Linked DNA regions of Homo sapiens. The protein of the gene in region 1 purifies or fractionates together with the protein of each later gene. This does not show direct contact. Each region holds a gene or a part of one and is shown in the gene's direction. Other genes may lie near its edges. The genes, in order: SLC39A9, SRPRA, XPO7 and TTK.

Region 1 (7,340 bases):
GCCAAGGCGGATTACTTGAGGTCAGGAGCTCGAGACCAGCCTGGCCAACATGGTGAAACCCCATCTCTACTAAATACACAAAAAATTATCTGGGTGTGGTGGCCCATGCCTGTAGTCCCAGCTACTTGGGAGGCTGAGGCACAAGAGAATCACTTGAACCTGGGGGGCGGAGGTTGCGTAAGCCGAGATCGCATTACTGCACTCCAGTCTGGGTGATAGAGCGAGACTCTGTCTCAAATAATACATAAATAAACAAACAAATAAATAAAATGTTCAATAATTATGGTCCATCCTAAATATCTGCTTTCCCTCCTAAAATTAGCAATTCAATAAATTTGGAGGGTTGGAAGTGATAAAGGCAGGGCCTGGGGTGGATGGACTATTAAAAAAAAAAAATTTGGAGGGGAAAAACCCAGTTCCTAAATGAGACATTTTTCTACCCCTTGATTAGTGTTAAACTCACCTTCCATGCATTCATTCACAGATTCGTAGTCAGCATAAGTTCTGCCTTCTGGCCTCTTGGTAGGCTGTACCAGCAAAATGGTGTGAGACTGCAGGGGAAAACATGATTTCAATATAAGTTTCTATTTGAGAAATTCATAGTATGATAAAAAAAAATCCCCATTTGTAATGCAATAATGATTGCTAGTTATTAAAATGTAATTAGAGAGGCCAGGCATGGCATCCCATGCCTATAATCCTCATCCTCTGGGAGGCTGAGAGGGGGAAAATCACTTGAGGCCAGAAGCTTGAGACCAACCTGGGCAACATAGCAAGACCCTGTCTCTACAAAAAAATAAAATTTGCCGGGTGCATGCCTGTAGTCCCAGCACTTTGGAAGTCTAAGGCAGGAGGATTCCTTGAGCCCAGGAGGCTGAGACTGCAGTGTGCCATGATCACACCATTGCATCGGAGAGTGAGGCCCTATCTCTTAAAAGAAAAAAAAAAGTCATTAGGATACTTTTCCCACAAAAATATTGATGTCTTAGTCTAAGTATAGTATCTAGCTGGATTCACAACTCTGCTGTACGGTCTCCCTAAGTCTCCCAGTCCTACCGTACTTACTGCCTACAAGTAATCAGTATAAGCTACCTTGCCCTCCTTTTCCTTTTCTATCTTTTCTTCCCAACTAAATTATAAACCTGCTTAGGTTTTCTGTCTCCAGTGGTCACTTTCCATCTTTAATGCTCTTAAGTCACTAATAAAAACTCAGATGGGCTGATGAAAGGAAACAAAAGGGGAAATAGTATAATAATCACAAGCATGGTTTCAACTTAAGCTTTTTTTCCAACCTCAGCGTAAGAGCAAAGTCACATTTTATCCAGGGGTTAGACTTAACATTAAAGCAGTAGATAAATTAGCAATATAAACATATCATAAGAATTACCCTTAAAAATCCATTAAACTATTCACCTAGTAGATGACTTGCCTTACTGGGCTTTCTCATACCAAAATCACATATTAGAATCACACAGAAAGTTAGGTCATCACACTATGAGAAATGTGAAATAATGCCCATAGCAGACAGACTTGTCTTCCACTTCGTGCTCACTGGGAAACATGTTTTTGTTAGTGATCAGTCACTAACAAATCAATCTCAGTGTTTTCTCAACGTGGGCTCTATTACCTTTTGGGTTGACTGATTCTTTGTTACAAATGTCCCTTGGGGAGCAAAAAATCTCATCCAGCTGAGAATTCACTGGTCTGTTGAAAATATGACCCATCCAATTTTCTGCTACATGTGTAAGGTTAATTAAATGCAAGTATGATGCAACTCCACTGTAAATCCAGTCCCAAATCAAACTATTCACCTTTTTCCTTCTCTTCTGCTGTACTAGTATTTTTCAGCCAAAAACCAGAAAACAAAAATTTCCTAACAGGAACCCTAAACTGTTTTGGAATAACATAATTTTTTTTTGGAGACAGTTTTGTTCCTGTTGCCCAGGCTGGAGCGCAAAGGCGCGATCTCAGCTCACCGCAACCTCTGCTTTCCGGGTTCAAGCGAATCTTCTGCTTCAGCCTCCCAAGTAGCTGGGATTACAGGCATGCACCACCATGCTCGGCTAATTTTGTCTTTTTAGTAGAGATGGGGTTTCTCCATGTTGGTCAGACTGGTCTTGAACTCCCGACCTCAGGTGATCTGCCTGCCTCGGCCTCCCAAAGTGCTGGGATTACAGGCGTGAGCCACCGCGCCTGGACAAAATGATCAGAATTTTTAACCATCAAATTGGAACAGAAATAGCTGAAGCCCAGACTTTCTGAATAAACAATGGAAAAATAGTACATTTAACATGACATGCAAAACCAAGGGTTATCATACCCTTCTCTCCCCATCAAGAACTAAACCACTTTGACTAAAAGTTTCAGAGGGTTTGACATAAAAACGGAACTTGGTGACAAGAGACGAAGGATTAACTCTCACCTGTAATAACCTGAGCAGTCAAAGCCTTTGTTAAATCGATTTAAAAGCCACAGAAAGCATCATATTAGATTATTTGTTATACAGAAGTCTTTGTAAGCTAGCTACTCAAAAAGTTTCAACGAGTCATTTAAGAAAAAATAATTTTGTAGAAACCACGTGCATTCTTGCAACAGAGGTTGCCCTATACACTAGCTATCTCAACTGCTACTATAATAATTGTATTCCAATTCTAATGCAAATTAAAGGACTAATTTGAAAGGGTAAGAATGGAAAAAGCTATACAGCATGTTGCTTTTTATATCTAGTCTTAAAATGAACACCGGGCAAAGTTTACTATTTTCAGTACTTACTGCCCAAAGACAAGGATTAAAAATCACTAAGAACATAACATGATACATTTTAAAAACTGTGGTCAAGTGGTTATCATTTTTAAATGGCAATGCTTTCCTGCTCAAATTCTTTACAGATTATACCACCTCTCAAGCCAGTTTTGGTCACTTTCTTCGAATTGGAGCTTACTGATCATCCCGGTTGGGTTCTAATAGAGCTGGTCTCTGAGCTGAGCCTACTTTTCAGCCTCCAGCCCCAAGAGGATATAAATACAGATAAGTACAGGATCGAGGGCTGAGGGACGCGCCACACGCAATACCTAGAGGTCTCAAAAACAGGAAAAAAAAAAAAAAGGCAGAGCACAGGAAAACGAAAGCTGAAAAAACACTGCAAAGCAAATACGTCCTCTCCTGGCCCACATGCTGGGTATAGCTGGATCTGTCAGCTTCGAGAATAGTTAGACAACCCTGGCCCATTGTTCCTACAGCAGGCTAGAGCATTTGGAGGGAAAAATACCATATCCGGCAGGGCCCGGTGGCTCACGCCTGTAATCCCAGCACTTTGGGATGCCGAGGCGGGTGGATTGCTTGAGGTCAGGAGTTCGAGACCAGCCTGGCCAACATGGTGAAACGCCGTCTCTGCTAAAATAAAAAAATTAGCCGAGCGAGGTGGCGGGCGCCTGTAATCCCAGCTACTAGGGAGGCTGAGACAGGAGAATTGCTTCAACCCAGGAGGCAGAGGTTGCAGGGGTCTGAGATCCCGCCACTGCACTCCAGCCTGGGCGATAGAGTGAGACTCTCTATCTCAAAAAACAAAACACCTCCCCCACGTCTCCCTCTACCGAGTAACAATCGGGAGAGAGTTCATCCTCAGGCCCAAGGCACGCCGGACCCGAGCGAGCAGGCGGGCGCGCAACCGCAGGGCGGACCGGGGCTCCGAGGCCTAGAGTCAGGCCTGGCGTCCCTGCGGCGGGAAGAAGGGTCAATCCACCGACTAGAGTGGCGGGGAGCATCACGCGGCGCTGCATGGGGCTCGTGGGGAGGGGAAAACGTATGGGGCTGGGGTCGCTCTGGAGGCCGGGGACTCGGACTCGGGTAGCCGCGGAGGCCTTTCTCACCATCGCGCCAAACTCTCTTCGCTACAGCAGCTGCCGACACCGCCGCCGTTACACGAGCTTAACTACAACGCCGCTAACAGCCAATCCTCGCGAGAGGAGCCGCCGGAAGTCGTCGAAAGTGCAACGCAAAAGAGCCTTTTGGATCATAGAGGCACAGTCACTTCCGGCAGCTAGAGCAGCTACTGACTCTGTTTCAGCCATCTTCGATAAAGGCAAAAAGGTAAGGGAAAGTTTCCAAGCTTTAGGAAGAATTATTTTTTTTCAAGACGCTGTCTTCCGTACTTTCGTTATTAAACATACGGCTCAAGTGATCACCGGTATAGACAGTGACATCAGACATCTTTCATTAGCCCTACTCAAAAATGGCGGCAACGTAAGTATCCTGGGCCGGAGGTCGGTTGTAACCCGGAAGTGCCTTTGTAAAGGAGGGGGTGGTTAGACAATCCGGAAGTGGATGGAATGAAGAGATGCCACTTGGCGGCCATGGCAGCTGTAGTATCGGCGACTCCGGGTCAAGGCCCGGTCGAGTGCAGTACCATGGGCAGCACCGGGTATAGGGCAGAGACAGCTTTGTGTCAACTTTGCTGCTGAACCCCTAGGACCCATCGTTAGAGACCTGCAGGACTCCTTTCCTCATCCCAGGCTCGGAGGAGAGTTTGCTGGGACTGGTGGGCTGGTTTCCTGCTCTGGGGGGCGGATCACCTTCGGGGCCGCCTCTTGGAGACAGGGGCGCCTAGGGAACGAACAGGTTCGCTTGAGTCACTTACCCGCCGCCGCCTAAGACATTGTGCCACCCTCAATCCGACAATCGAAGAAATCGATCATTCGCACATTTTCCCCATTGACTTTTCCCATCTCTGTTAACCCACGAGAATCTAATGACTGGCATCTGAGAACCCAGAGCCTGGGACCTTAGATTGCTGTAAGCTTTCTCTGGTGCTAATATCAGCAAAAAGGGTCTGTTGCCGGGTACGTTCAAGAGGAAGGTGCCTCGTGAACACATCTGCTGGTGGGAAGGCCTAAAGAACTGGAAAGCCCACTCTCTTGGAACCACCACACCTGTTTAAAGAACCTAAGCACCATTTAAAGCCACTGGAAATTTGTTGTCTAGTGGTTGTGGGTGAATAAAGGAGGGCAGAATGGATGATTTCATCTCCATTAGCCTGCTGTCTCTGGCTATGTTGGTGGGATGTTACGTGGCCGGAATCATTCCCTTGGCTGTTAATTTCTCAGAGGTAAGAAATTCTCAATTTTCTGTCAGCTGTCAGGATGGCTGTGAGATAGTAGTTTTAGTTGCAAAGGGAAGCTGCTTCCCTAGTTAAATCTCAAAGCTGAAGGTCTCATTAAGAAAGACTATCTTTTTTAAAAGATACATGACACTTAATAATAGAAAGAAACCTCATATTCATTAGTGGAATTCTTAACCTGGGGTGGATAGATATTCCACGGAAGATCCTGGAGTATTCTGAATCCCCTAGAATTGCTTACAAAAATTTGAGGTTCTGTGCATTTACCTGGAGAGAGGCACCATAACATTTCTTTTGATTCTCAGAGGTTTCATGGAATCAAGATTCCAGATTGTTATCAAGAAAATAAATGGAGGGCTGGGCGCGGTGGCTCACGCCTGTAATCTCAGCACTTTGGGAGGCTGAGGTGGAAGGATCGCTTGGGCCCAGGAGTTCTAGACCAGCCTGGGCAACGTGGCGGGACTTTGTCCCTACAAATGAGGCTGAGGCAGGAGGATCGCTTGACCCCAAGTGGTTGAGGCTGCAGTGAGCCGTGTTTGGGCCACTGCACTCCAGCCTGGACAGCAGAGTGAGATCCTGTCTCCAAAAAAGAAAAAAAAAGAAATGGAGAATGTTATTTTTCTACATGAACTGAAATCAATATGATAACTTCCTTTTGAGAAAGTCAAACACACCTTTCTGAGGAAAGCTGTTTTGTTTTTTGGATGTCTGTACTAGAATGAATGTAAGAAAAAACTAAGATTGTTCTTAACTCACATTTCCTTTTAAAGAAGGGGAGCCTTGGAATTGATATTCTGAAGTTGTTTCAAATCTATTTGCTTAGCAATGAATTTTTGGTTAATACGTTTTGACATTTTCGTTAATTTGATTGGCACCTTGAACAGATGTTAAGCGAGGGTCCCGGGAAGAGGGATAGATGAAAGCACTGTTCAGTGAACATGCTGATAGGTCCTTTAGGTAGGCAAAAGGAATTCACGAAGTGCACAGCGTTCAAAGATTTAGGGGGGAAAAACTACTACATTCAAAGGGAACAAGATTTCATGAGTTTGTCCTAGAGTTCAGCAGTAAAATAGGCCCTAGTTTCAGTGCCATTCCTGAAAGTACTTTCAAAGGAGGCCTGAAGTAGAAAGGAAAGGTATAAATGAAATATTAAGTACACCTTGAAGAAACCTGAGGAAGAGGAGACATTACAGGTGAAAATAGCCTGTGGGTGGGAAAGAAGGTGGGACAAGGTGTTGTCAGTTTGAGGAAAAGTAAAGCCCATAGCCAGATGGAACAGATGCTTAAATTGTTGTTGTTCTTTTTCTGTTTCCTTTTTAATCTGTACCCCTCAGCATCTAATGATAGCATTTTAAAAAATTACGTGCATTACCTAACTTCACTTAAAAAACTCAAGCTGGGTGCGGTGGGGCGCGCCTGTAGTCCTAGCTACTCAAGAGGATAAGGTAGGAGGATTGCTTGAACCCAGGAGTTGGCCTGGGCAACATTGAGACTCTTTCTCTTAAAAAAAAAAAAAAAGAAAATAAAAATCAGTGACATATAGATGAGGAAACGGAGACTGGATAGGTTCATGAAGTTTGTTAGAATCAGAAGAGAGGTATTTTTTCAGTCTAGCTTTTCTGACTCAGACTAGTTCGTAGCCACTAAGCATTTCGGCAAAGGTACATGGTACATATACATGGTAGCCTGTGTGCCAAATCCAGCCTGCAGACTGTTCCATTAGCAGAAGTTTATTATTGTTGTTCTTTACCAGTATTTCCTAGAGGCAAAGGTTGGGTCGGGCTGAGTAGCAGCTGTTAGGCACAGTCCTCCTTGCCCTTGAAGCCTGTTTCACTTATTTGGGTTACCTGCCTGCCCAGTACTTTGTGAACCTGCTATGTTTCCTTTGACATAACCATATTTTCTTATAACTATATTAGAATTGAATTGACATTAGTAGGGCTGACATGTGTGAGATTTGGGTTGGTTTGTGTATTTTTAAACATATTGAAGTAACATTTATGAATAATCATAATTAATTCTGATAAGCAACCAGTAAAACTTTTTATTTCTATAAAATGCCTTTAACTTTACCAATTCCAGTATTTTTTCAAACTACCTTGAATGATTATTGCAATATGCGGATATATACTATTTCCTTTTTCACTAGAAGGAAATGTTTACAGGAGTGGTGTTAATAACTGGGTCATTAATACAGATAATTAGTATGTCATGTCATTTGTGG
Region 2 (3,495 bases), on another chromosome or scaffold:
TCGCGGGATAGGGGTAGTTGAGAGCAGAATCACCTAGCGTTTCTCACCTGTACCATAAAGATTGGTCATTGCTGACATGGAACTGACATACCTGTCCCCCTCTCCTCAGCTAAGAACGTGGCTGCAGACATTGCCGTCCAGCTCTGTGAATCTGTTGCCAACAAGTTGGAAGGGAAGGTGATGGGGACGTTCAGCAGTAAGTACTTACCTAAGTGAGAAAGTGCTTATGTGTAGGTTAAGTGCATAGACCTCAGTTCTTACTAGGTATGTGACTTTCGGCAAATTCCTTAACCTCTAAACCTCTGTAACCTAGATTTTAAGGGTTATTGAGAGGATTCAGTGAGTTAGTCCTTGTAATGTGCGTCTGTTCTGGATTTCTGGGACAAGAGTCTAATTTACTGTTTTAGTCCCCTTAGCTCAGAAAGGTGTTAGGCATTTTTGAGAGCATTCCTTGAGTTTCACAGCTGCAACCTCCTCCACCTCCCCTTTCAGCGGTGACTTCCACAGTAAAGCAAGCCCTACAGGAGTCCCTGGTGCAGATTCTGCAGCCACAGCGTCGTGTAGACATGCTCCGGGACATCATGGATGCCCAGCGTCGCCAGCGCCCTTATGTCGTCACCTTCTGCGGCGTTAATGGAGTGGGGAAATCTACTAATCTTGCCAAGGTCAGTGCAGTTCCCCAGCCTATCGCTGATATTTCTGTACTTCTTGTGTCTCAAAATCCTGGCTTTAGGTGACTTTTCTTACGTCTTTTTCACAGATTTCCTTCTGGTTGTTAGAGAATGGCTTCAGTGTCCTCATTGCTGCCTGTGATACATTTCGTGCTGGGGCCGTGGAGCAGCTGCGTACACACACCCGGCGTTTGAGTGCCCTACACCCTCCAGAGAAGCATGGTGGCCGCACCATGGTGCAGTTGTTTGAAAAGGGCTATGGCAAGGATGCTGCTGGCATTGCCATGGAAGCCATTGCTTTTGGTACAGTGCATGGGAAGTGTGGGGGCTTATTTGGGGTCCCTTTTTCTCCTTGGGTTCTCTTGGAATTTGCAGAAGATCAGGCTTGTGCTACTACAGACTCGTTGGTCAATTACAGTAAAAAGTCAGATCAGTTACTTGCCATGCTCTGCTTTTGGATAACAGATGTAGTTGCAGGCAAAGCTAATATACCTTAACCAGAGAAACCTGAATTTGGTCACCTTCATCCTGTTGTCCTCCTTTTCCTGAATATGTTTGGTGATGGCCAAGCATATAATCAAGTTTTTCTCACATTACCTTGGAACCAAATCCAGAGCCCAAGACAGTGAACAGGTAGTCAAACTAGGACTTTTTGAGAGGAAGCTGGGAACGAGCATGAGTGGTAGTCCAGGTGTTCAGAGTTGACTACTTTCTTTCTCTAGCACGTAACCAAGGCTTTGACGTGGTGCTGGTGGACACGGCAGGCCGCATGCAAGACAATGCCCCTCTGATGACTGCCCTGGCCAAACTCATTACTGTCAATACACCTGATTTGGTGCTGTTTGTAGGAGAAGCCTTAGTAGGCAATGAAGCCGTGGACCAGCTGGTGAGAGCGTGGGCCCAGTTCCCTTTACAACTTGAGCTTTGGTCAATTTAGATGGTTCTTACACTTCTATCACTTTTTCTTTCCAGGTCAAGTTCAACAGAGCCTTGGCTGACCATTCTATGGCTCAGACACCTCGGCTCATTGATGGCATTGTTCTTACCAAATTTGATACCATTGATGACAAGGTAAACGTGAGACTGGAGGCTGGAATGGGCGTCCTGCACAAAGGAGCTGAGGCTGCAAGGAAATCTTGGCTCCAGCGCTTCCTGTTCCTGAGAGGGTGAGTGAAAAGTGGGCTTGTGTTGATGGGCTGTCCTCTTTCTCCACTTAGGTGGGAGCTGCTATTTCTATGACGTACATCACAAGCAAACCCATCGTCTTTGTGGGCACCGGCCAGACCTACTGTGACCTACGCAGCCTCAATGCCAAGGCTGTGGTGGCTGCCCTCATGAAGGCTTAACGTGGCTCTTGCCCAATACCAAATCGCCGCTTTCCCCACAAGCCCTTCTTCCTGTATCAAGAATGTGCTTTAGAGTATGTGAGCAACCTGTCTTCAGTGTAGTACAAAGGCAGAGTGAGGGGGCTTGTGGCTCCTTCCAACCCCACTCCCCGTTCAGCACAGCCGCCATCTGCAAGGAAGGCCTAATCATGTTACAATCACTGCCCACTGACCCTCTCCCAGCGGGCCTCCCCCTTCCTACTCAGGCACCCCCTTCACTCTGCCTACAGACTCAGTCTTATTACAGCTTTGACCAATGGTTGGAACCCAACACCAGAGCTTTGCTAATAATTAGTGTGGTCAAGAGCCGTCTGAGCCTAATGAGTCCCAGCTGCATTAGGTTAAGAGACTCTTCCAGAGCCAGCGCCAGGTCTTGAATGGCACCTCTCCCTAGGATACACAGCCTGCAGGTCCCCAGGACCTGGATGACACCCGCCTCACTGTGGCAGTGTATTGCCTGTTAATTGCTGCTAATTCTAATTCTGATGATGACTCCTACTCCATTGTTTACCCCAAAGCATCAGCTAGGCTGGAGTGATTTGTTACAAATGAGCAAAAGATGAGTCCTTGCTTCCCTCAGAAATAAAAGGAGCTCAGCTGCAGCGTTGCATTGGGCTTCTTGGCCTCCCAACTCTTCCCACTCCCAGAATCCAGAAGTAAGCTCTGCATGTTCCCCTTCCTGGGAGGAAACCAATTGTCAGAAGGATGTATGATGACCCCCTCCCCTCCCATCCTTCACCTCCTAAGCAGTCCTGGCTTTTCCTCATCACTCCCCTCTACAGTGCCTGGTAGACAAGTGCTACATTGAAGAACACAAACCTCTTGTTAAGACTTGTCCTGTAGCTTGATATTACAGATGTGCTATTAGTGCAATAAGGTGAAGGCTGTCTGCCCAGAGAAATAAGTAATTTATATAAGAAAATAAATTTCATAAATAAATTGCCTTTTAGGTCTTGGAGTTCTTTTATACAGGATTCAAAACTAAAATTCCACAACACACTTAACTGTAGTTCTAGGACATATGTATGGTCAGGACAACAGAGCAGAAGTTGATAATGCTCCGAGGAATCAGGTAAGTAAACGGTTGTCCTGAGAATGAGATCACTCCACCCCAAGGAGAAAGATCGGAACCTTTAAACTTTGGGTTATTAAAATTAAGCTTATTAGTACCTTGATGCAAGTTAGAGTTTCTTACAATGACTCTAAAAGTAGAGCCAGGGTCCTGGCAAGTAAATGAACAAGCTTTTAATACAGCTTAGTTATGTAAAATACTGTACACTGTAAAAGATCTAGAAAACTAGAGCTTCAAGTCATGTTTTAAAAAAGCCATTAAGCTTAATTGAAAAACCAAGTATAGAGTACAAAACTGCAACAAGAGCCACAGTGATTCCATGGCATCCAGACCCCGAGTCCTTCATGCAGAGCTGCAGCCGGTCAGT
Region 3 (7,037 bases), on another chromosome or scaffold:
GTTAGTTTTAATAGTGCTAGCTGGTGTTCAGGAGCTCGAGAGGAAAAGGAAGGAAAGAATATGATTTATATATCGAATATGCTATTTAATATGAATTATATTAGTTTTACCATAAATAATGGAAATGAAGACTGATTCCAGGATTTTGCTGGAATTACTACGTTGTTGTGTTGGGTCTTATTATTTACTGGGCTTTGCATTATGACTGTACTAGGAGAATGTACTATTTGCAAAGTAGTCATAGTTTGTTTTAAATTCCAGGCACAGTAATTAAATATTGACTACCAGTGTAACTCCAGGGAGTTGTGAAGAATCATTACAACTTGTCAGGTTAAATTTTAGCAGGGTGCAAAAAGTCGGCCTGATTATAGCAAAAGTGATGGTTGTTTTTTCAGCTTTTAACAATATGCAAGGAAATGATAAGTGCTATGGGTAGTCCATTTTGAAAAGGGAGTTCCGTACAACTTTTGAGAATTTTAAATGGAAAAAACATAACTTTTCTAACTTTTTTCCAGTTCGACTAATACCAGAATGCTTAGTGTGTGCAAGGCCCTTTCTGTGCTGGGCACTTCAGAGGATTCAGAATGAGAAAGACACTGGAGCCAGACTGCTGAAATATCCAATTCTGATGCTCTTTTGGCAGGCTTCAGGAGCACACACGTAGATACAAGAAAGAATACATTGATTTCAAAACATGCTACATCTGTGTTGGGTGATAAGCAATAACTATATCCCATCACCCACTCCCACCCTGATTATACCTCTTTCGTGGGTTTATACAAATAATATGTGTGTATTTTATTTCATTATTTTACTCCTATTCAACACCACACTGGAAATGTCTGTATTTAAAACATATATATCTATATATTTACTTGATTACTCTGACTTTAGTATATTTCCTGAGAAGCCTTGAGAAAAATTAAGGGATGTATATATACGTGTGGGATCATTCAAACACTTAACACAGAAAAAACAAAATACAGTACAGTGATGGAAGAATCTCTAATTTAGATGAAGGTATAGAAAGAAGTATCAGGAAGATCCCTGTTCTATATCTTACAGAGAAATTAGCTTCCATTTGACCCAGAAATTGATGTTCATAACCACCAGCTGTATTTTCTTTTTTCTTGGTTGGGTTTTGAAAGCAATATTGTACCACAGCCTTTCGAGGTGGGAAAGTTGCCAGTTTAAACCAATAAGCTAATGTCTCTCTGTAGGTACAACTACTGAGGCTACTTTGCCCACTTCAGTATGTGCAAGGAAGATAGTGTTTTGAAACTGCATCTTTTTAAAACACCTAACATTATCTCACATTTTCTCAGGGTTAGGAATCTGGGAGTGGCTTAACTAGATGGTTTTGGTTCAGGGTCTCATTTGCAGTCAAACTCTCAGCTGGGGCTCCGGGCTGCAGTCAATCTCAGGGCTTGACTTGAGGATAGAGAATTTTCTTTAGGTTTACACACAGCGGGCCTGGTCAGGCCTCAGTTCCTCACTGGCTGTTGTCTGGAGGCTGCAGTTCTTTACCAATGGGCCTCTCCTAGTGCATCATTTTTAAGGACTTCATTAAATTCTGTAATGATATATGCTGTGTATAAGTGACCCATCTTTGTTATTTTTTTCAAAAACTTTTTATTGAAATATATACCTGCAGACAGGTACAGAAATCATATGTGTTCAGCTTGATGAATTTTCACAAAGTGAATACTCCTTACTAACCAGCACCCAAATCAAGTCAGTATTATCGGTGCCCCAGAAGTCCCCTGATACCATCTCAACAGCTACCTGTAGCCCCCCTCCCCCCCCCACCCCACTAACTACTATCCTGTCATTTTATTTTTAAATCTGCTTTTAGAACTCAAGCTGAGTAACCTGAGAGTTTTAGCTTCAAAGCCAGGGGGAGAAGCAGTACAGAGCAGTGATTATACAGCTTTGGGGGGATTTATTTCATAATATGATGGAAGCTATGTTACTGCTCTCTGGTGGGGGTGGGGAGAGTGTGCCTACACAAAATTTTACCCACAATTTTAGGCCATTCATGAACCTTGATAACTAGAGTTTAAATATATGTTTCTTTTTAGATGAAAATGCTCACAACATTTTATTGAGAAACTGATTTACAAGTATTTCTCTTTTGACTTATTTGAAAAGCAAGTTCAGGACCACGATAAATGTTCCTGGAGAGTTACATGCAAGCTGAATTTTTAAATATTGAAATAAATTCTTGAGGATGATTAATGGTGACCACTTAAGCATCTACTAATATCCCATTTTTGTTACTGTGCAGACACATAGAAGGAAATACAAGATGTGATATTCTACTTCCAGGGCCTTACATTGAATTGAGCATCACAACAAGCCTGGTCATTGAGTTGTGAATTTGTAGTGAGACTGGTTTTGTCGACATGTCCCTGAATGGGGGGCAGTCACTACCCCGTTATCTTTTCCCCCATTCCAATACATGTCTGGAATACATTCATTCCTAACATTTATAGTGACTCATTACTAGGAAATTCTCAATGGAATGGGATTGGTACCCAGGAGGCATATCAAAATCTTGGGGGAGGGAGAGAGTTGTAAAAAACCTAGATCCTAAGTATTTCTGATATTTGCTTCAATGGCTGTTCACCCCTTCGCACATGTGTGCATGCACACAAGGACACACACACACTCCTACTGCCATAAAATGGGAAGGATGTATTTAAGAGAAGGCAGAATTGGAAACTTCATGCTAGCATTAATTGATATCATTTAATGCTCACCGCAGCAATGTAACATCGGTATAGAGATAATAGTAATAGAATTTTCCTTGAAATAAGCTGATTAAAAGACCTGGTATCCCTGGAAGACTGGAGAACTCGCTGTTGGAAGATTTAGATGATGTTCATGGTGGTGGTTATTGTAAGACTTACTGGAGTGTGACTTGGTTGGTCATAGGGAAAGGGGGATACCAGTATTAACTGAGTGTCTGTTATATGCCAGGCACCATGCTAAGCCTTTTATAGTGTTATGCCATTTAATTGGGAAACTCGTTTGGTCTCTGAGCCTGGATTAAGTGATCTGTGAAGTCCCTTGTACTTCAAGCATTCTGGATGGGATTTCCAGTTGTCATCCTTGTATTCTCTCCCCAATATAGCACCGTGTTCTCAATTCATATGTACATGTTTGTAAAATTCCTTAAAATATTTATGCTCAAACCAACATTTCCATTTTATCTATCTTAAATATATCTTCCTCTTCTTTACGCCTAATTTCTTAAACTCCCAGAGTTTTTTTCTGTAAGATCTAGTCATCTGTAGCACTTCTCACAAATTGAGCTCTCTTATGCCCCAAACAGTAACGAAAGAGGTCTCTTAGTTGGACAATAAGCAGTGAAAGATATTTCTTATGGGACAAGAAATTAACATTATTAGTCAAATGTTGATGCCGGTAGGCTGAGAAATGATTCTCACTTAAAAGCCCCTGGGTTTTAAACCTCTCTTAGAAAAACATTAGTTAGATGAAAAAAAAAATCAAAATATTTTCCTCTGGAAAACAATGTTCCTCTGAAAACAAGCAGATTATTAAAATATCCCTTGTACTACTTCAGGAAATTGTAATCTTATAACTGTAGTGGCCTTTTAGCTTTTAAATATATGAACTTGAGTTGGACACATGCTGATCTCATTGGTACTTTGCATGATAAGAAATTATGATATTTACAATGTGCAGTCTCAGAAAGAACTGAGAGTTTTGCTAGACATTTGCCCTAAAGTTTGAGTCAATTTATGGTTTAAAGGGGTGTATTTAAGGCTAGAAAAGGGAAATGAAGGGTTTTCTTAGGATTTTTTCCAATTCTATTTAAAATTGTTTGCAAAGTTTTGAAAGCATATGTCATGAGTTTGGCAAAAATTATTTCAAAGCTTGTTTTTTTTTTAACCTCATTCACCTCTGCTAACTCCTGAACTTCAGTGCTTTACTTCTGTCTTCCAAAAAGACGTTGTCTAAAATTAGTCATGAAATTTAACTTAACTGTAAGAACTTGAAACATAAAGTTTGCTCTGAAAAAGATCTGGGAAACCTGATGTATATTTCACATATCAATACATCTGTTGATGTATTGATAAAATCTATACATCTCAGTTGAAAAAAAATCTAAATTTTGCCCAATATATAGCCACAAATTATTTAGAATGTAATGTTCGTGTTAGTAGGTGATATTTTTGTCTTCAGCTTGTCATTGACCCATCTAAGGATCCCTGCGAGGTCTTGTCAAAAACTAGCCTGGGGCATACCCAAGAATTTTAAAGATTAAATAAAACTTACTGGAAAATGTGACCTTGTTTTCCTTAGTCTTAATATTTTGAACTGATAATGTTCCAGAACTGAGCAACTTTCTTCAGGCCTTCATAAAACCAAATTAAATTGTTTTTAGGTGAATTGAACCTGAGCAACAGGGAGTATTTAAGGACAGGCCAGGCAGGGGCACACATGCTTGTAGTCCCAGCTACTGGGGGGGAGGCTAAGCTGGGAGGATCACTTGGGTACAGGAGTTCAAGTCCAGCCTGGGTAACATAGCAAGACCCCAAGTCTTTTAAAAAAAATTAATTAATTAATTTAAATTAAATTCAAATAAAATAAGGACATTATCCCACAGGTGTTACAAATGAAAATTTGTTGTAATGTAAAGGATTATTTACTAGTTCTTGGAATTCTACAGTTAGCCACACTCCATACAGGGAGAGCAGAATGTTGTGAGCAAGAAGTTTTAATTTCACAGAATTCCTAAAACCTGTCCATTCAGAGCTGTTTGGTTTAGGTTACTGTTAATGTACCCTAGAGGTTCCCAAAGGCACATTTCGTGTTAACATTGATAGCATTGATAGGGTGAGACTTAAAAAAAACCAACCTTTTTTTTTTTTTTTTTTTTTCTTAAGATGGAGTTTTGCTCTTGTTGCCCAGGCTGGAGTGCAGTGGCGCAATCTCGGCTCACGGCAACCTCTGCCTCCCGGGTTCAAGCAGTTCTCCTGCCTCAGCCTCCCAAGTAGCTGGGATTACAGGCATGCACCACCACGCCCAGCTAATTTTGTATTTTTAGTAGAGACGGAGTTTCTCCATGTTGGTCCGACTGGTCTTGAGCTCCCGACCTCAGGTGATCCTCCTGTCTCGGCCTCCCAAAGTGCTGGGATTACAGGCGTGAGCCACCGCACCTGGCTGACCCAACTTCTTATCTATTCCTCCCATACCCGTCCCCTCAAATGTAAACAGCACTCACAAAAGTGGATATTTGGTTCATAGAGATTACTGTTGTGTAAATCTGTTGCCAGTGGAATAAAATCTTTCCTTTTTACTAAAATTTTATTCGTACAGTAAACTGCATCCATTTAAAGTGTACAAATTGACAGATACATACACCTGTGACTCCGGGATCAAAATATGGAACATTTCCTCTTTGCAGTCTGTTCCTCCCTCAGCTCTCAGACCCACACAACCCTGTTCTGCTTTCTGTCACTATAAATTAGTTTGCATTTTCTGGAATTTTATATAATGGACTTACTGTATACTCTTGTTTTCTGACTTCTTTCACTCAGCATAGTAACTCTGAGATTGATTCTCATTGTTGCATAGTAGGAGTGCTTGGTTACTTTTCATTGTTGCCAAGTATTCCGTTGTATGAATATATCACATTGGATGTATCCATTCACTCTTTGGGAGACATTCAGGTTGTTCCCAGTTTTTAGTCATTGTGAATAAAGATGCTGTGAATATTCATATACCAGTCTCTGTATGGATGTACATTTTTATTTCTCTTGAGTACCTGGGAGTAGGATGGCTGAGTCTTATTGTGTATGTTTACATTTTTAAAGAAACTGTCAATTTTCCAAAATGACTGTACCTCGAGTTATTTCATAACTTCGCCAACATTTAGTATTGTCATTCTTTTTGCCTTTCTAGTAGGATCTTGTGTTTTTAGTTTGTACTTCTTTGATGACTAACATGTTGAGTATCTCTTCATGTGCTTACTGACATTTGTATATCTCAGGCTTGCAAACCAGGCTGGTGTTTTGGCCTGACAGCCTGTTTTTGTATGGCCTGCACCCTGAGAATAGCTTTTACATTTTAAATGGTTGAAAACATCTAAAAGAATAATACTCCATGTTGCATGATAATTATATGAAATTCTGATTTCACTGTTCGTAAATAAGTTTTATTGGAACATGCATTCATCTATGTATCCCGTATGGCTATTTTTGTACCACAGTGGCAGAGCTGAATAGTCTTGACAGACATTTTGGCCTAAAATATTTACTTTCTGGCCCTTTAGAGAAAACATTTGCAGACTTCTGGTAGATCTTCTTTGGTGATGTGTCCCTTCAAATCTATTGCCTGACTTTTGGGTGGAGGACGTACCAGCCCAGTATGTTTCTAACCCAAGCCCAGTTTGACAGGAACTGCATCAAGTTCTTCAGTTGTACCAACCACATTTCAAGTGCTCAGTAGCCACATGAGGCTAATAGCTACCATATTGCATAGTGCAGATATAAAATATTTCCACTCTCATGGAAATTTCTATTGGACAGTGCTACTCTAGAATAAACTTGCCGCTGAACCAAAGGGATTAGAAGCAAAGTGGAACATAGGTTATAGGATTGCTTTCCTGGATGTCGATAAAAATAAGCTAGATCCTCGTCCTCTCAGATGTGTGTGAATGCAAATGGATATATTTTGTTATCCATGTATGTCCTGTTCTCTTGGCCAAGTGATGAGAGGAAGCAGTTAACTCATAAAAGAAATTCAGAATTTTACTGATAGGAAATAGTGTTTTAAGGGGAAAAAAACAAGTGTTAACTTATCATCTGCCAAAGCATTTTGCAAAGAACAAACCTTCTAAAATTCCCATATAGTTGTAACTGTTTTACAGATGAGATGGAGAATATGAAGGGAGATAGTAAACCATGAAATCACTTTTTCCTGGTGCTAAGTCCTGATTCACTAGCAATCGTAGTTCTCTTCAGCTTCTAATTTTAAAGTATTATTTACCATAAAGTTTTTCATAA
Region 4 (7,037 bases), on another chromosome or scaffold:
TACACGATAAATAAGTTACTTGTATTTATATGAACTTTTACAATTTTAAAAAGTATTATAAGGACTTTATGTACATTGATACTGACAGTACAAATGTTTGACTATATTTTGAAGGAAAAATGCAATTTGGCATTTGTTTTATGTCTTTTCTTGTGATATATTTTGTTCCCCTTATTTAGATAACTCGGGAACTGTTAACCAAATTATGATGATGGCAAACAACCCAGAGGACTGGTTGAGTTTGTTGCTCAAACTAGAGAAAAACAGTGTTCCGCTAAGTGATGCTCTTTTAAATAAATTGATTGGTCGTTACAGTCAAGCAATTGAAGCGCTTCCCCCAGATAAATATGGCCAAAATGAGAGTTTTGCTAGAATTCAAGTGAGATTTGCTGAATTAAAAGCGTAAGTATTAGCATTTTAACTATGTTCAACTATGTTACATAATATGTAACTACACTGCAAAGAGAGAAAATAAAAAACATGGCAGTATTGTGAGAAAATATTAATTTTTTTACCAAATACTTTTGCTTATAGTTAACAAGAGACTAATGTAAACTCTTTTCTATGCACGTTTCCACAACAGTTTACTTATTTTAAACTGCCTAAAAAGATTTTTTTAAAATAACTTATTAGTATTTAATTTTACCCACAGAAAAAAGCAATATCCCATGTTTTTTGGAAAATTGAATGAAGCATTATCAAATTTAAGTAGCTATGTTCTTTTTCTTAAATTTTGACTCAAATCTTTTATTACAGTATTCAAGAGCCAGATGATGCACGTGACTACTTTCAAATGGCCAGAGCAAACTGCAAGAAATTTGCTTTTGTTCATATATCTTTTGCACAATTTGAACTGTCACAAGGTAATCTGAAAATGTCAAATTCAAATTTTAAGTAAAGGATAACTTATTACAACTTACTTCCTAATATTAAATCATATATATGAAGTGGAAATTTGAGGCAAAAGACATTAAAGTTGATCAGATGAGAATATGGGGAGAAAATGCCACCTAAATGTAAATGCAGAGAATATCTGTTATACTAGCTTTTCCATGTATAAAGAGTAATCCAGGGAAATGAGCATGAACATTGTGTATGTGCTACTAGTTAGATTCAGGAAACATCTAAAGGAAAGTAGCTGCTTCACTGAGTATTTGTAGGAAGAAGGATATCAGATATTTAAGCTAGAGCTTTAAATATCTAGAGCTTACATAAACTTTTCTTATGCTATGGTTTCATAGCACCAAAATGTACATTAAAGTGTAGCTATGTAACTTGGTGGTCAAGTAAACTATATATCTGTGTGTGTGTGTGTGTGTGTGTGTGTGTGTGTGTGTGTAGCGTTAATTGGTAGTTCTTTAAAATAAAAAAGTAAACTGCTGTAGAAACTATTTCTTGCTCACTTGGTTCTTCATAGTCTGGATTTTTTTGGGTAGGACCAAGACAATCTCTTCCTAAGACATTTTTAACCTGGCCATTCCTTAGTCTTTTCTCATTTTCCAGGGCCTTTGGATACACCCTCAGTCTGCCCTCTGGCCAGGTGTTTCCATTCTCCCACTGCCTTGTTTCTGCTACAACTGTGATCCAATTTACTGCCAGTGATAAACATATTAACACTATTGGAAGAATCCCCATGATGGTTTCCATAGCAGGGATTGGTCACTGGAGAGTATTCCCCAGGATTGAGCCTGGAGAAAATAATTATATGACTCAGAAATAATTTGAGAACCCTGAATTGTTACCCATTCAGATGATTTCTGAGTCCTAGTAATTGTCTTCTCCAATATGTCCTTTGCTCTATCAGGTTACTTTTTAGAACTATTATCCCTTTCTTCTCTAGAAAAATGGATTCCTCCTTGCTTGTTAGAGAAAATTTGGCAAGGCTTCTTTCTCTCCATTCTGCTTGAAAATTTCTTGAGGTATTGTGGCCTCTCAATAACAACCATAAATTTTACATGTTTAGAACATGTAAATATTGAAACTCTTAAATTGAGTTATCTGTAAAAAAGACGAACTTTATCTATACCACTTTATCTGCAATGTGGTAGTAATGCACAGTGATGCAATGTGGTCAAATGCATTGCACAGTAATGCAGTGTGGTCAAATTATGATTATTTTGAGCACAGTTGATGGCTTGGCTGTCAGGAAATAATGCAGCATCCCTGAAGTCCTATGCAGAGTCTGGTGTGTGAGTATTTTTATAGGGATGGAGGACATTTCAGTTTTTACCAGATTCTTAAAGAAATCTCTGATCTCAATACTAAGCTATCTGATTAATTAAGCTTCTTAAGCCTTTCTCTCTTTTCTTGTGCTAAAATACACAATACATGAAATTCTACCACTACTTAGTAAATGTAGATGTAAGCACTATCAAAGATATTTTTAAAAATTTATAAACTACCAGAAGCTAGAGATCATCTCTTAAGCATTTTTATACGCTAAGTACCAAGTGCATAGCATAGCTCAATGGCTCCCATAAATGTTGATAATATTCTGTAAGATATGTGATGTATACATTTAATATTTATATGTCAAATGCTAGGGGTAAGTTTACCAATTTTTTTGGTAATCTGTCCATACTCAGAAAGGTAATTATGATAGTTCCTCAGTTATTCTGCATTCTTTTTCAGGCTGGTATAGCTGAGTGTGACAGCTAAAGATTAATCTGTATTTATTATGTTTTTCCCCGAAAATCCTTTTGATGGAAGATGCTCTTTAACAAAAGATGTCATCCTTCCCTTAACTAAATGTCATTATGAATGATACTTATTATAGCATGTTGTAAGAGACTGATGCTCTTGGCACTTTTGTAACATCTAGAATGCCCTCCTGTTTCTAACTGTTGTGATTGGCCTTTGCTGTCCCCTGTTGGTAACTGCTTTGTTACACTTCTGTTACTTCTGAAAGTGGACAGTGGTGATAAACTAATGCAAAATTACGTCAGCTACATATTGCAAGGAAACTATTTGGTATGCATTGTTATCAGAAGAGAGTTGGTTATCTGCATAAAAAGTGAGAGATTGCTTACTTGCCTATGAAATAAAATACATGAGCCTTGGAATAAATATTTTTGCTTAAGTCTTTTTGATTTTTTTTTCTAGGTCCTGATGAATACGTATCTGGGTGGTCTGGGTGGTGGGCATTTTACTGCCTAAAAATGACAATTATCTTTTGCTTTGTTAGGTAATGTCAAAAAAAGTAAACAACTTCTTCAAAAAGCTGTAGAACGTGGAGCAGTACCACTAGAAATGCTGGAAATTGCCCTGCGGAATTTAAACCTCCAAAAAAAGCAGCTGCTTTCAGAGGAGGAAAAGAAGAATTTATCAGGTAACTATTAAGGTATACTAATACTTTCTGTGGTAGGTAGTACTTCAAATAAAGATTCGGGATAATAATTTATAGAAAAATATTATTTATGTAGAATGGTTAAAATCTAAGATTAAATTGTAAAGGAGGTAAGACTGAGAAGTAAAAAAGTCTCTACAACCCCATGCAAATTTGTCTTTTTTGCTAACTAAACTTTCGTTAACACATGAAAAACAACTCTAAGCAAGAGAATTTTTTTTTTTTTGCTTTTGGAAATAGAGAATGTGCTTTTACCCTGGGGAAATAGTTATATAATTTAAGAGAATTTGAAGAAGTAGTTAGATAATTATCTTGGTATCATCTTCATGTCTGCATATCTTACTTGGGGACAAGTATTTCCTATGAATTGACTTTTAAAATATTCTTATTTGTAAGATCACTTTTTTGTACTTGTCTTATTTCTTATAAATTTAATCATAGTTTCAAAATTTTTACAGCATCTACGGTATTAACTGCCCAAGAATCATTTTCCGGTTCACTTGGGCATTTACAGAATAGGAACAACAGTTGTGATTCCAGAGGACAGACTACTAAAGCCAGGTTTTTATATGGGTAAGGAAACGGAAACAGTTTTTAAATGTTCATCTTCTATGTAAGTACATCTGTGTTTTTTAATGTAATTACATGTATCTGCATATATGTTTTCATGTGTGTGATAATGTTTAGCAGTAGAGTAGAAATACATATTAATATTGTTCTTTGAAAAATTGGGGGTATTTTCTTTCTGTTTAGAGAGAACATGCCACCACAAGATGCAGAAATAGGTTACCGGAATTCATTGAGACAAACTAACAAAACTAAACAGGTAAGTTACTTTCAATCTGCTTGATTAAGGTGGTGATAGTCTTTATTTCCTAGTTGGTTATTTAATCTTTCAAAATATTTTTAGTCATGCCCATTTGGAAGAGTCCCAGTTAACCTTCTAAATAGCCCAGATTGTGATGTGAAGACAGATGATTCAGTTGTACCTTGTTTTATGAAAAGGTATGTTGAGTTTTAATTTTTAAAATTTGTTGTCCGTATGGGAAGATTAATGGCAGAATGGTCTTAAAGTCTTTTACTGAGTAATAGTAATTATGATTAAATTTTTATTCAGTTTTAGAAGATAATCTCTAAATGTTGTCAGGAACAAAGGAATGAGTGGAGAAAATAACTTTGTTTTGCTTTTTCACTCATTAAAAATATTCATTAAAGGAGCTTTAAAAGGAAAAAATATTAAGTCAACATTAAGCTTAAAAGACTGATATTTGAGGATTTGTCACTTACGGGTAGGCTGTCTGCTAAGAATCTCTTCCTGTTTTGTTTGAGAGTCTCCATAACGGGTAGAAGGAGGTCTGGGAACAAATATTTGCTCCAGATAGTTCAAGGGGAGAATCGCTGTCAGTGGGATAGATGATTATTCTTTTGCTTGAGTCTAGTGCTTCAAGAAGTGGGACAGGTTAGGTACAGATGAATTACTGTTCATCACATCCAGTGTGTTCTCCTTCCCTCAATTTGCTTGTTTATTCCCTGTTAAGAAATGGGAATGTAGCCTGTAGCTCAGCTAAAGGAGAGTTATTTTGGCCTATTCTTAATTCTGACCAACATTTGTAATATTTATATTGGAAAAGGCTCCTTACAGTCCAGAGAATCATTTTGCAAATAAACTTTAGAAATACGATTGTTTTTCATTACTATCTTTTATAATTACATTTCTATTATATTTAGACTTGACTAAATATTGACATTAAAAGAACATTTTGTTTGTCAAGGTTAAGCTTTAAAGTCTTATCACTATGATTTCATCTTGTTCATCTCTATTTCAAATACCTAGCTCAAGAATAAAGGAGATTTTCTTCCGCTCCAAAAAATTAAAAACAAAAACAGAAAAACTGCAGCCATTTTCTTGGTTCCTGTTATCGATAGACAATGCTAGGTACTGTGGAGGTCCACAGAAGTGCTATACCCTGGTTCTTATCCTTTAGCTATTTGTAATTGGAAATGTAGTTTCATCTGTATACTTTGCCTTTCCCACAGTCTAACCCTAACTCCAATTGTTACTGATTAGATAATGAAGAAGTAGGCGATCACCTGTGTCACTTTTGTCATTGCCCAGCACGTAATTTTGTTAGCTAAGTCACTTTTGTATTGGAATTATGTCACTCTAAAAAATGTCTTTTTAAGAGATTTTTTTCAATAAAAAGTATGTATATTATTAAAAATCCAACTTGAGATGAAAAAATACATTGAAAATTTTTTTTTTCAAATTTAATGTTAAAATTATTTTGTTTCACGGGTAAAAGACAAACCTCTAGATCAGAATGCCGAGATTTGGTTGTGCCTGGATCTAAACCAAGTGGAAATGATTCCTGTGAATTAAGAAATTTAAAGGTATTTTAATTCTATATCATTATATAAAGCAAGGGTTCCTGATCTGGGAGGATCAGTATTCATGGAGCTTTTTCTGGGGAAAGGGTTTATAAATAGTTCATGTATCTCCAACAGTGTTCCACATACCCCAAGAGCTGTGGGACTACGAGTGGGAAGTTGGTGCAGAAGTCCTAGACTATGTTTCTCCAAGATTAAGGTGGTAGAGCAAGGATCAACAATCTTTTAAGAGAATCATGAAGTAATATTTATTATGCACGTGTTTAAGCAGATAGTTGGCCTGGGTTTGGGAATACGTGACTGGGGGAACTGTTGCCCCCAAGTTTTGTTTTTTGTTATGTTTAATCATATGATTTTGGTAAGACATCTTAAAAAAAAATGAGAGAGTAAATTGAGTTAGGGCAGAGGTGAGGACATAAATAATCCTGACCTCCTGACATGGCAGAGCAACTTTGTGTGGACTTAAAGGAAATAATTTTAGTTCCTGGTACACTGTGATTTTTAGTGGTTATACTATTATTATAATTGAGTTAAACCCCTGGCATCATGATGTGGGTCTTTTCAATTTTATGTTCTTTGTAATGCCTCCCTCTTTCATGACCTATGCTTTAAGTATTAATTTTTCCTAATCCTGGCTGTCCTAGAGAACAGTGCATAATTGTGTCAAAAAGATTGTTCTCTGGATTTAGAGTAACTACTCTCTTAAGTTATGCAGTTACTAGTTTTGACTTATTTTTGGTGATAAAATAGCCATCACAGTAACAAAATACTTAAATCTTTTTTCTTGTCATGAGGCATACTCTATGTTGAATTCAAACTTTCTAACCCTTTCCATCTTTAAGTGAAATATATTTTAGCAATTGATTAATACATCCACTGAAAGCAAATTGGCCAGATTTATGGTTATGACCCTTCCCATTTCTCTAATTAATAATTCAGGCAGTTAACCTTTGCTGGGGGTTTGTGAGTCTACATATAATTATAATAGAAAATTTTATGAGCAATCCATGTATAGATAAGACTTTAGTATATTGAACAGTAAGACAGATTAGTAGTACTACTATTTATGGGACTTTATTTGATTTTCTTTTTCATGTAGTCTGTTCAAAATAGTCATTTCAAGGAACCTCTGGTGTCAGATGAAAAGAGTTCTGAACTTATTATTACTGATTCAATAACCCTGAAGAATAAAACGGAATCAAGTCTTCTAGCTAAATTAGAAGGTAAGAGTAACAAAATCAGTAGACTTGTATGTTTAGTTAAGAAAACCACTTGATAGCTTAAGAAAGCAGACTAGCCACCT

Evidence for each region.
Region 2: the proteins of SLC39A9 (region 1) and SRPRA purify together in Homo sapiens (affinity purification with mass spectrometry; 2 studies listed by BioGRID and IntAct, with this or other methods). This does not show direct contact.
Region 3: the proteins of SLC39A9 (region 1) and XPO7 purify together in Homo sapiens (affinity purification with mass spectrometry; 3 studies listed by BioGRID and IntAct, with this or other methods). This does not show direct contact.
Region 4: the proteins of SLC39A9 (region 1) and TTK purify together in Homo sapiens (affinity purification with mass spectrometry; 3 studies listed by BioGRID and IntAct, with this or other methods). This does not show direct contact.

Annotation. Positions count from the first base shown.
Region 1 is NC_000014.9:69,394,362-69,401,701, forward strand, and holds the start of SLC39A9 (zinc transporter ZIP9), read left to right. Parts: upstream 1-4,330; 5' UTR 4,331-5,008; coding exon 5,009-5,104; intron 5,105-7,340. Other genes in the region: ERH (enhancer of rudimentary homolog), read right to left, coding at 464-551, 3,870-3,872. UniProt on the Homo sapiens protein: Transports zinc ions across cell and organelle membranes into the cytoplasm and regulates intracellular zinc homeostasis. Participates in the zinc ions efflux out of the secretory compartments.
Region 2 is NC_000011.10:126,262,438-126,265,932, reverse strand, and holds the end of SRPRA (signal recognition particle receptor subunit alpha), read left to right. Parts: intron 1-109; coding exon 110-196; intron 197-492; coding exon 493-665; intron 666-760; coding exon 761-974; intron 975-1,393; coding exon 1,394-1,557; intron 1,558-1,643; coding exon 1,644-1,742; coding exon of another isoform or gene 1,743-1,837; intron 1,838-1,888; coding exon 1,889-2,017; 3' UTR 2,018-2,995; downstream 2,996-3,495. UniProt on the Homo sapiens protein: Component of the signal recognition particle (SRP) complex receptor (SR). Ensures, in conjunction with the SRP complex, the correct targeting of the nascent secretory proteins to the endoplasmic reticulum membrane system.
Region 3 is NC_000008.11:21,922,650-21,929,686, forward strand, and holds part of XPO7 (exportin-7), read left to right. Parts: intron 1-7,037.
Region 4 is NC_000006.12:80,007,630-80,014,666, forward strand, and holds part of TTK (dual specificity protein kinase TTK), read left to right. Parts: intron 1-179; coding exon 180-402; intron 403-756; coding exon 757-863; intron 864-3,184; coding exon 3,185-3,328; intron 3,329-3,804; coding exon 3,805-3,919; intron 3,920-4,099; coding exon 4,100-4,172; intron 4,173-4,256; coding exon 4,257-4,351; intron 4,352-5,649; coding exon 5,650-5,737; intron 5,738-6,833; coding exon 6,834-6,957; intron 6,958-7,037.